Regions from separate parts of the Homo sapiens genome. Here region 2 is linked to region 1. Evidence: fine-mapped expression QTL. A gene starts in region 1. The other region holds a variant in brackets. All regions are shown on one strand. Distances are between the middles of the regions.

Region 1 (4,383 bases):
CTCCCCAGGCCGTCCCCAGTGCTGCTGAGCTACGGTGTCCCCTTCGACGTGGCCAGGAACGCGCTCCGGCTCAGCGTGGGCCGCAGCACCACCAGGGCCGAGGTGGACCTCGTCGTGCAGGACCTGAAGCAGGCCGTGGCGCAGCTGGAGGACCAGGCCTAGCACTGGGGCCGCCTTCCCCACCCCGCTTCTGGGAAGCCCGTGGCAGGGCACAGGGTTGTCCCTCCAGTTCCCTCCTGAGGGCTGTGCCAGGATGACTGTCTCATGCCCCCTCTGCATTTTGTCCTGGAGTGCCAGCGAGTGTGCACCCCCAGTTTCCTTCCCTGGACCCCTGCAGAGCTCACAGGGCCCAGGACACCAACGCCGCATAGGACTGCCCACATGGGACCGCCCACATAGGACCGCCCACATAGGACCGCCCACATGGGACCGCCCACATGGGACCGCCCACATGGGACCGCCCACATAGAACCGTCCTCCAGTGGTGAAGCGGAAACACTTAGCTTTATCCACCCTCCCCACTGGGAACTGGGCACGCCTGTTGTGAGTGCCCTTTCCTGGAAGGTGTTTTTATCTGGAAGATAGAATCCAAGTATTTATAACTCATTGTCAGCCAAATGCTATCATGAACGTAGGAAACTTGATTTTTTTGTTTTGATCATGGCCTCTACATGCACCTTTCCAGAGTGGTCTCTTCTCAGGCCCTTTTTAGTCCCTTTCCAAAGCTGCCCCCACCACCCTGCTCCTCTGGCCTCAGTGCACAGTGGCCCCCAGCCTCGGCCAGGCCTGCTCTGCTCAGCGCCCACCGCCCACCACCCCTCCTGCTTCCCCGAGCCTGACCCTGTTCCGCCCACTGGCAATCAGGGCTGCGCACTTCCCTGTCCACGGTCCCCAGGCCTTCCTGTCTTGTCCCTTTTGATCATTATTAACTCAGGGTTTCAGCTCCAACCTCGCTGAGTTGGTGCAGCTCCAGGTCATTCCTGGGGTGGGAATCGGATCATCCCTGACTCAGCTTTTACCTTAATTTTATTTGCAGAGGATTCTTTTCTCAAAATGCTCTGGCATTTGGACACACATCACATGTCGATATTTGCATAGGAGTCATTTTCAGTGGAATAACATTTTTAATGTGTGGTTTTACGGTTCAAGGAACTACTTGATGATTTTGAGGAAACACTTGCCAGAAACTAAATTAACGAATAAAAGATTTCAGTGCCCGACTTGGGGATCCTGTGGTTTCTCTAGTGGGCACTGCGCTTGGGCACAAAGTCATCTGACAGAGCCTGTCGGGGGGAAGCCAGGGGTGCAGCAGCCCCCAGGTCACCATTGTGTGATGATGCGTTAGCCCAGAAATCCAGCTTGAGGCTGTGTCTCCGGAAGCCCCTACAAATGTAATGGGTCCCCCATCTGCAGCTTCCCATTGCTGCCAGGAAGAGGCTGTGGTGGTCCTGACTTCCCTAAAGAAGAACTATGGATTGTCCAGAACAATCTGGAAAGGGGTTAAATGTACTTGGGCCCTTGGGGCTGCAGCCCAGAGACTTGGTCCGTGTAGTTGGAGAGGGGGCCGAGGCAGGGGCTGACACCTTCTCGCCTCAGAGGCCTGGACACACCCAAGTCAGGGTCCTGAGCCCATTGCAGGCCCCGTGGAGCCACTGTGTCCCCAGAGATTCCTAGGAGCCTCCAGGGCCGAGGGCCGGGACCCAGAGGCGGGGCGCTCAGCTCTGTGGGTGTCAACACAGCCAAACATGTAGACCTACTGGGCACCCTTTACTTCAGACACACTGTGGTGGCGGCTGGGGGTCTGCCCTTCTGTGAGAGTTGGGGGAACTGTCTCCCAGGCCACTCGGGGCTCCTGTGAGAAGCTCAGTGGCGTGTATCCTCAGCCCTCGCTCCACAGATGAAGTTCCTGCCATCTGGACAGATCTGAGCAGCCTCAGGGCCAGCCTCCTTTCTCTGCTGGCCATACCCAGCCCTGACCTAGCCTGGTGTGGGCCTTTCCCTGTGCCCTGTACTCCATCCTCCCAGCTCCAGGCACCTGGCACCCTCACACTGTGGGAGTGGCTTGGGCAGGTCCTCAAGGCCTGTCCCCCCACCCGACCCCACCCCACCGCCTCCCATCTGCCCTGTGGCAGCTTATCGGGTAACCAGAGCCGGCAGCTTCATCCACGTCTGAAACAGGAAGCCCCAGCCTGTGCATGAGTCGCCACTGAGAGCCCGGGCCAGAGGATGGAGAAGCAGCGGGCACTCGTGGCCGCCAAGGATGGGGATGTGGCGACGTTGGAGCGGCTGCTGGAGGCTGGCGCCCTGGGCCCGGGCATCACCGATGCTCTGGGGGCCGGCCTGGTTCACCACGCCACCCGGGCTGGCCACCTGGACTGCGTCAAGTTCTTGGTGCAGCGGGCCCAGCTGCCCGGCAACCAGCGGGCCCACAACGGGGCCACCCCAGCGCATGACGCCGCTGCCACGGGCAGCCTGGCCGAGCTGTGCTGGCTGGTCCGCGAGGGGGGCTGCGGTCTGCAGGTGAGCGGGGATGGGGCAGCCTGGCTCCACGAAGCTGGCTGGGGTGGAACCAGGGAGGTGTGAGCCACGGAGGATCAGAGTACTGGCCACCCCGGGCTCCATGGCCCTGGGCCCTTTGTTTCTCTTGGGGACTCAGTCAGTGGTTACCGTCTCTGCCCCACGCCTCTCAGAGCACAAAGGCTTGAGAGCCAAGAACACCTCCTAAATTTTCTTATCACCTTCCCTGCCAGGAAGCTGGGCGTTGCCAGTGGGGGTCTTGCCAGATATCAGGACCCCTGTCTCTGATCAGGCCTGGTCCACAGGGCCTGCCTCCCAAAGGGTCTAGAAAGGGATCCTTACAGAAGCACTGTGGGAACTTGGGCTTGAGAGCTGGGAGCCTAGCCCTGGGGGACGGGAGTTAGGGCTGCTGATGGTGATCGTCTTGTCCGGATCGTTTCTACTGGGCCCCCCTCCCCTATCCTGCCTGCCCAGTCCCCTTTGTGCAGGCGAGGCCCTTAGAGCTGTCGCTCAGCCCTGTGGAGCTTTCAGGGCTGAGGGTGAGCAGGACTGACCGGCCTTAGAACGCCGCCGCCCAGAGGTCAGAGTTGAGGTGGGGGCCGGTGGGGCCTGCTTAGACTGCGGAGCGGGAAGGTTCCCCAGCACCTGGCTCGCCAGAGCACCTGAGAGTCCCGGCCCAGCATCCTGTTCCTGTCGGCCCTTCCGCCAAACCCAAGGGCAGCAGGCGGGAGCTGTGCCTGCCTGGGGATCCATTCTGACAGGGCCCTTGGAGAAGGCCCAGGTCTGCTGGACCCCTGACACCTGTGGTAGGAACGCTCCCTGGCCCCGGGACCCTGTGGCCAGCGGGAGGGCACTGGGGCAGGGGACCAGCCAGAGGTAGGTGTCCTGGGAAGCCTTTCTGACCATGAGCAGAGTGGGCAGGTGTCTGCGGGCACCCGACTGCGTGGGAAAGGGCCTTCTCCACACTGGGGACGGGCCCAGGAGAGGGCAGGGTTGCCAGAGGTGGCCTCCCAAGACCTGGACCTGAGTCCTGGCCCTCCTCTCACCTCAGTCCCAGCAGGGAGCACCTCCCTCCATGTTGCAGGCAGAAACGGAGGGAAGGAGGAAGGAGCTGGAAGCCCCTTCACTGGGTTGCAGGCAGTGTGAGCCCTCGCCCAGGGCCCACCTCCGGCAGCTGGCTCTGACCTCACGGCCTACCCCCCACTCACTGACCTACCCGGGGCTTGGTAGGACCAAGATGCCTCGGGCGTCTCCCCGCTGCACCTGGCCGCCCGTTTTGGACACCCAGTGCTGGTGGAGTGGCTGCTCCACGAGGGCCACTCGGCCACGCTAGAGACCCGGGAGGGAGCCCGGCCGCTGCACCACGCTGCCGTCAGTGGGGACCTGACCTGCCTCAAGCTCCTGACAGCCGCGCATGGCAGGTAAGGAGCCCAAAGTCCCGCCTGGGGGGGCAGCCTGGGGCGAGCTGGCCAAGGGGAGGCTGCACCATGGAGGGCCAAGAGGACAGGCTGGTGGCCTTTGAGGTGAATCCTGCAGGCGGGCATGCTGTCACTGTGGGGGTGAGCTGGCAGGAGCCAAGGGCAATGAGGCCTCTACCCACAGGCCAGGCAGTGGCAGTGCCATGCCAGGGCCCAAGGGGACACAGGCCAGTGCTTCAGCTTGGAGAGTGGCTGGGGGCGGTGACGATGGCAAGATGCTGCTGTGATGCCCAGGGCAGCTCTGGCCCCACCTGGGGGCATCTCGGGACCTAAAACAGCTGGGGACGTGGGCAGCTGGCAACCTGTGAGGGCACCCTCCCATCACCTGACAGGAGTGGGGACTGTCTAGTGGACTTGGGGACACAGAGGCTGGAGCTGCCTCTGCACT
Region 2 (4,383 bases), 130 kb before region 1:
AGGCTGGTCTTGAGCTCTTAGGCTCAAGCAATCCTCCTACCTTGGCCTCCCAAAGTGCTGGGATTATAGTTGTGAGCCACCGTGCCCAGCCATGACTCTCTTTTTTAAAAAATGTTAATTCATAATTTTAAAAGTTAGGCTTATAGAGGATGGCATAGAGCTTCTCAAATGTATTATGAAGGAATCCAATCTTATTAATGTGTACAAATTTTTTCCATAACTAAATTGTGGGAAAAAATCAAAATACAAAAGCACTTATACATTTTTCTCAGTGTCTAATTAGTCTCTGGAGACCTGGTCCTTAACCCTGCTTTCATTGCTGTCTTTCAGGGTAAAGGCAGCAGTAATGCTAACGCTAGCAAGTAAACTGAAGCGTGACGATGGTCTCAAAGGGTCCCGGACGGCAGCCACAGCGTCCGACTCGACTCGGAGGGTTTCTGTGAGAGACAAATTGCTTGTTAAAGGTAATGATCATTCGTGTGAACTGTTTTTATATCCTATAACAAAAGGAAGTTTGACTGGAGAGTCTTTGGGGATATAAAGCAACCTACTGCTGAATAGAAATACCTGTTTAAAAGATTTTAAAATATAATTGCTTATCTCTTATAGTGAAGGACATTGTACCACGCAGGTGATATGAGCACACTGTTGCAAGGAGATGGTATTAGAAACTGCAGTGTGTCTTATACACTTGGGATGTTCTTTGTCACGTCTGCCAAAATGCTAGCAGAAAGAATAAGGTGCTGAGAGTCAGCAAAGCCTAAGACTGGTTTCAGAGCTGCCATTATCTTCCTTTCTTTCTGATTCTCAGCACCATAGTTTCTGCTCTGTAAAGGGGAAGGAGTCAAATTTTGTAATCTCTTAGGATCTTTTCCTGTTTTATTCAGGTCAAAGCCTACGGCGAATCTTGTGAAAAATTAGTTCTCTTCACGGAATTAATAACATATAGTGTTCTAGAGTTTTCGTGACTTCTGCTATCCATGTTGGTGAGGAGAAACTTTATCCTTGGAGAAGGGTTGGTAAAATGTATGAGAGTATGCGTGCATGCAGATATGCATTCATTTGTATGTTTGAGCATAAATTTTGCATTTATTCATTTAGCAAACTCTTAAAATTTTCAAGTGCTTTGAAGTCGGTTTCTTGGGGGTCATAAGACCTATAAAAGATGAAGAAACAGTTGCAACCTTTAAGGAGATTATAATTTGCTTATTTATAATAAAGTTAACTTTGTATTTTATTTATTTATTTTTTTGAGACAGAGTCTCACTCTCACCCAGGCTGGAGTGCGGTGGCACAATCTTGGCTCACTGCAACCTCCACCTCCTGGGTTCCAGCAATTCTCCTGCCTCAGCCTCCTGAGTAGCGGAGATTACGGGCACCCGCCACCACGCCCAGCTCATTTTTTTTTTTTTTGAGATGGAATTTCGCTCTTGTTGTCCAGGCTAGAGTGCAGTGGTGTGATCTTGGCTCATCACAACCTCCGCCTCCCAGGTTCAAGCAATTCTCCTGCCTCAGCCTCTCGAGTACCAAGCAATTTTCCTGCCTCAGACTCTCGAGTAGCTGGGATTACAGGCATGCGCTACTACACCTGGCTAATTTTATATTCTTAGTAGAGATGGAGTTTCTCCATGTTGATCAGGCTGGTCTTGAACTCCCCACCTCAGGTGATTTGCTCGCTTTGGCCTCCCAAAGTGCTGGGATTACAGGCATGAGCCACTACACCTGGCCAAATTTTTGTGGTTTTTTTTTTTTTGTTTTTTTTTTTTTTTTGAGATGGAGTCTCGCTCTGTCACCCAGGCTGGAGTGCAGTGGTGCAATCTTGGCTAACTGCAACCTCTGCCCCCAGGGTTCAAGTGATTCTCCCGCCTCAGCCTCCATAGTAGCTGGGATTACAGGCGCCTGCCACCACGCCCAGCTAATTTTTTGTATTTTTAGTAGAGATGGGGTTTCGCCACGTTGGCCAGGCTGGTCTCAAACTCCTGACCTCAGGTGATCCGCCCGCCTCGGCCTCCCAAAGTGCTAGGATTACAAGCATGAGCCACCGTGCCCAGCCATTTTTGTATTCTTAATAGAGACGAGGTTTCACCATGTTAGCCAGGCTAGTCTTGAACTCCTGACCTCAGATAATCCACCCGCCTC[G/A]GCCTCCCAAAGTGCTAGGATTGCAAGTGTGAGCCACTGTGCCCGGCCATAAATGGAGACAGAGTTTCACCATGTTAGCCAGGCTAGTCTTGAACTCCTGACCTCAGGTGAGCCACCCGCCTCTGCCTCCCAAAGTGCTGGGATTACAGACGTGAGCCACTGTGCCTGGCCTTACTTTATCACAGGTGTTTACATTTCTTTAAAATTTTTTTTTTTTTTTGAGACAGACTCTTACTCTATCACCAGCCTGGAGTGCAGTGGCGTAATCATGGCTCACTGCAGCTTCAGCCTTCTGGGCTCAGGCGATCCTGTCACCTCAGCCTCCTGAGTAGTTGGGACTACAAGCGTGCACCACCATGCTTAGCTAGTCTTTTTATTTTTTATTTTTTTGTAGAGATGGGGTTTCATTATGTTGCCCAGGCTGGTCTTGAACTCCTGGGCTCAAGTGATCCACGCACCTCGGCCTTCCCAAAGTGTTGGGATTACAGGTGTGAGCCACTGTACCCGTCAAGTGTTTACATTTCTTACATGTAGAGCAGCTAGAAAGCAAAGGGTTGATTAGTGTATTCGAACTCCCTGTTTTCATGTTGTATTAGGTTGACAACATGGAGATTGCAGGCATTTACGTGTCCTGAAGAATCTAACAGCAGAAGAGCTGGTGTATGTAAATGTGCTGTGCTTGGCCTTCCCAGACACAAATCACTGTTAAACTGGGGAAGGAATGGGAACTGTGAGGGCACTGGGTTTGTGGGGACTTAACAGTGTCCTCTTTTTCTTTTTTAAGACAGAATGCAGTGGCATGATCTCGGCCCACTGCAACCTTCACCTCCTGGGTTCAAGCGATTCTCATGCCTCAGTCTCCTGAGTAGCTGGAATTACAGGCACACACTACCACGCCCAGCCAATTTTTGTATTTTTAGTAGAGACGGGGTTTCAACATGTTGGCCAGGCTGGTCTCAAACTCCTGACCTCAAGTGATTGCCTGCCTTGACCTCCCAAAGTGCTGGACTAACAGGCATGAGCCACTGTGCCTGGCCTGTACTCTTTTTCTTACTCTCCTTCTGCCCCTGAGTTTGGACTTAGTTTTGGATTATCCAGCCTGATGATTGGTTGAAAGTGGAGTGAGAATGGTATTTCACATTTTGGCCTTACCTACTAAGCCTGGGAGAATAGTAGATTGTATTCAGCGTCTGTTGTGCTGGAGGCTTTACCCTAAGAGGCCCAGAGGGCGGGGCAAGAGCTGGAGCACCTTACTTGGGTGTGCCTGATAGGACTTGAGTGTCTTCTCAGATTCCGGGCTCCATCTGCAGCACAAGCCAGGAAAATGGTGTGTTGTTGCTGTACTTGGAGTAGACAGTGAGTGCTTCAGTGCCTGAGGAGTTGCAGCAAGGAGGGCCTGGATGTCAGCTGAGGAGGAGTGGGTAGAAGCTGACAAACAGACTGTCCCATCTTCTTTACCCAATCATTGTCATGGTTAATAGTAGCTAATAGGAGCTTTTGTATACTGAGCACTTAGGGCCAGGCCCTCTGTTGGGCACCTTCTTAGTTCATTTGTGCTGCTGTAACAAAATGCCACAGATTGGGTAATTTATAAACAATAGAGTTTTGGAGGCTGGGAAGTCCAGGATCCTAGTAGGATTGGTATCTGGTACAGGTAGTTCTCTGCTTCAAAGATAGCACCTTGTTGCCGTGTCTTCACATGGCAGAAGAGATGGAAGGGCAAAAAGGGCCTAAGCTAGTTTCCTCCTGCTCTTTTATAAGGCCCTGATCCATTTATGCGGCAGAGCCCTGATGACAATCACTTCCCTAGAGGCCCCACCTCTTAATACTACCACAGTGGGGATTAAGCTTCAGCATGAATTTTGGCCCCATTCGAGCCATAGTAGGCACTTAATGGGGTAATTCTTGTTTGACTTTTCAAAGCCTTGCCAGATTGATCCTTCATTTTACCCATAAACTGCTGAGACTCAGGTTAAGAAACTTGCCCAGTTTGCGGGTTTATTGCAGCAAGACAGCCAGACCCACATACTGGGGTAGGACAGGCTCTGTGGGGGCAGATGCGACAAGCAGAAACCAAAGTAGCAGAATAGAAGTGCAAGTCCACAGAAAAGAGAGTTCAAGGAGGCTCTGCGTCTCCATGTCTCCTGCCCTGCTCAGGAACTCACCCTGGAGCTCTCTGCCGGCTCCAGGGCTGACAGAGCCCACTAAGACCTACCAACCTGGGCGCCCCTCCAGCTCCAAGGA

What was found. PIP is the estimated chance that this variant, and not a neighbour inherited with it, causes the effect.
Region 2: its variant is the best candidate, but not a certain one, in a credible set for the expression of ESPNL in subcutaneous fat (FUSION, PIP 0.54).

The regions. Positions count from the first base shown.
Region 1 is chr2:238,098,194-238,102,576 of GRCh38, forward strand. It overlaps ESPNL (espin like), which reads left to right and starts at 2,147. Exons shown (of 9, transcript NM_194312.4): 1 at 2,147-2,520; 2 at 3,748-3,938. The coding sequence starts at 2,227. It overlaps SCLY (selenocysteine lyase), which reads left to right. Exons shown (of 12, transcript NM_016510.7): 12 at 9-1,220. The coding sequence ends at 162. UBE2F-SCLY (UBE2F-SCLY readthrough (NMD candidate)) reads left to right here. Exons shown (of 19, transcript NR_037904.1): 19 at 9-1,220. RefSeq lists enhancers at 1-660, 295-589, 4,355-4,383.
Region 2 is chr2:237,972,762-237,977,144 of GRCh38, forward strand. It overlaps UBE2F (ubiquitin conjugating enzyme E2 F (putative)), which reads left to right. Exons shown (of 10, transcript NM_080678.3): 2 at 331-464. The coding sequence starts at 347. It overlaps UBE2F-SCLY (UBE2F-SCLY readthrough (NMD candidate)), which reads left to right. Exons shown (of 19, transcript NR_037904.1): 2 at 331-464. Among named protein-coding and RNA genes, the nearest start is that of UBE2F, 7.9 kb to the left of the region's middle. The variant G/A (reference allele first, on the strand shown) is at 2,140.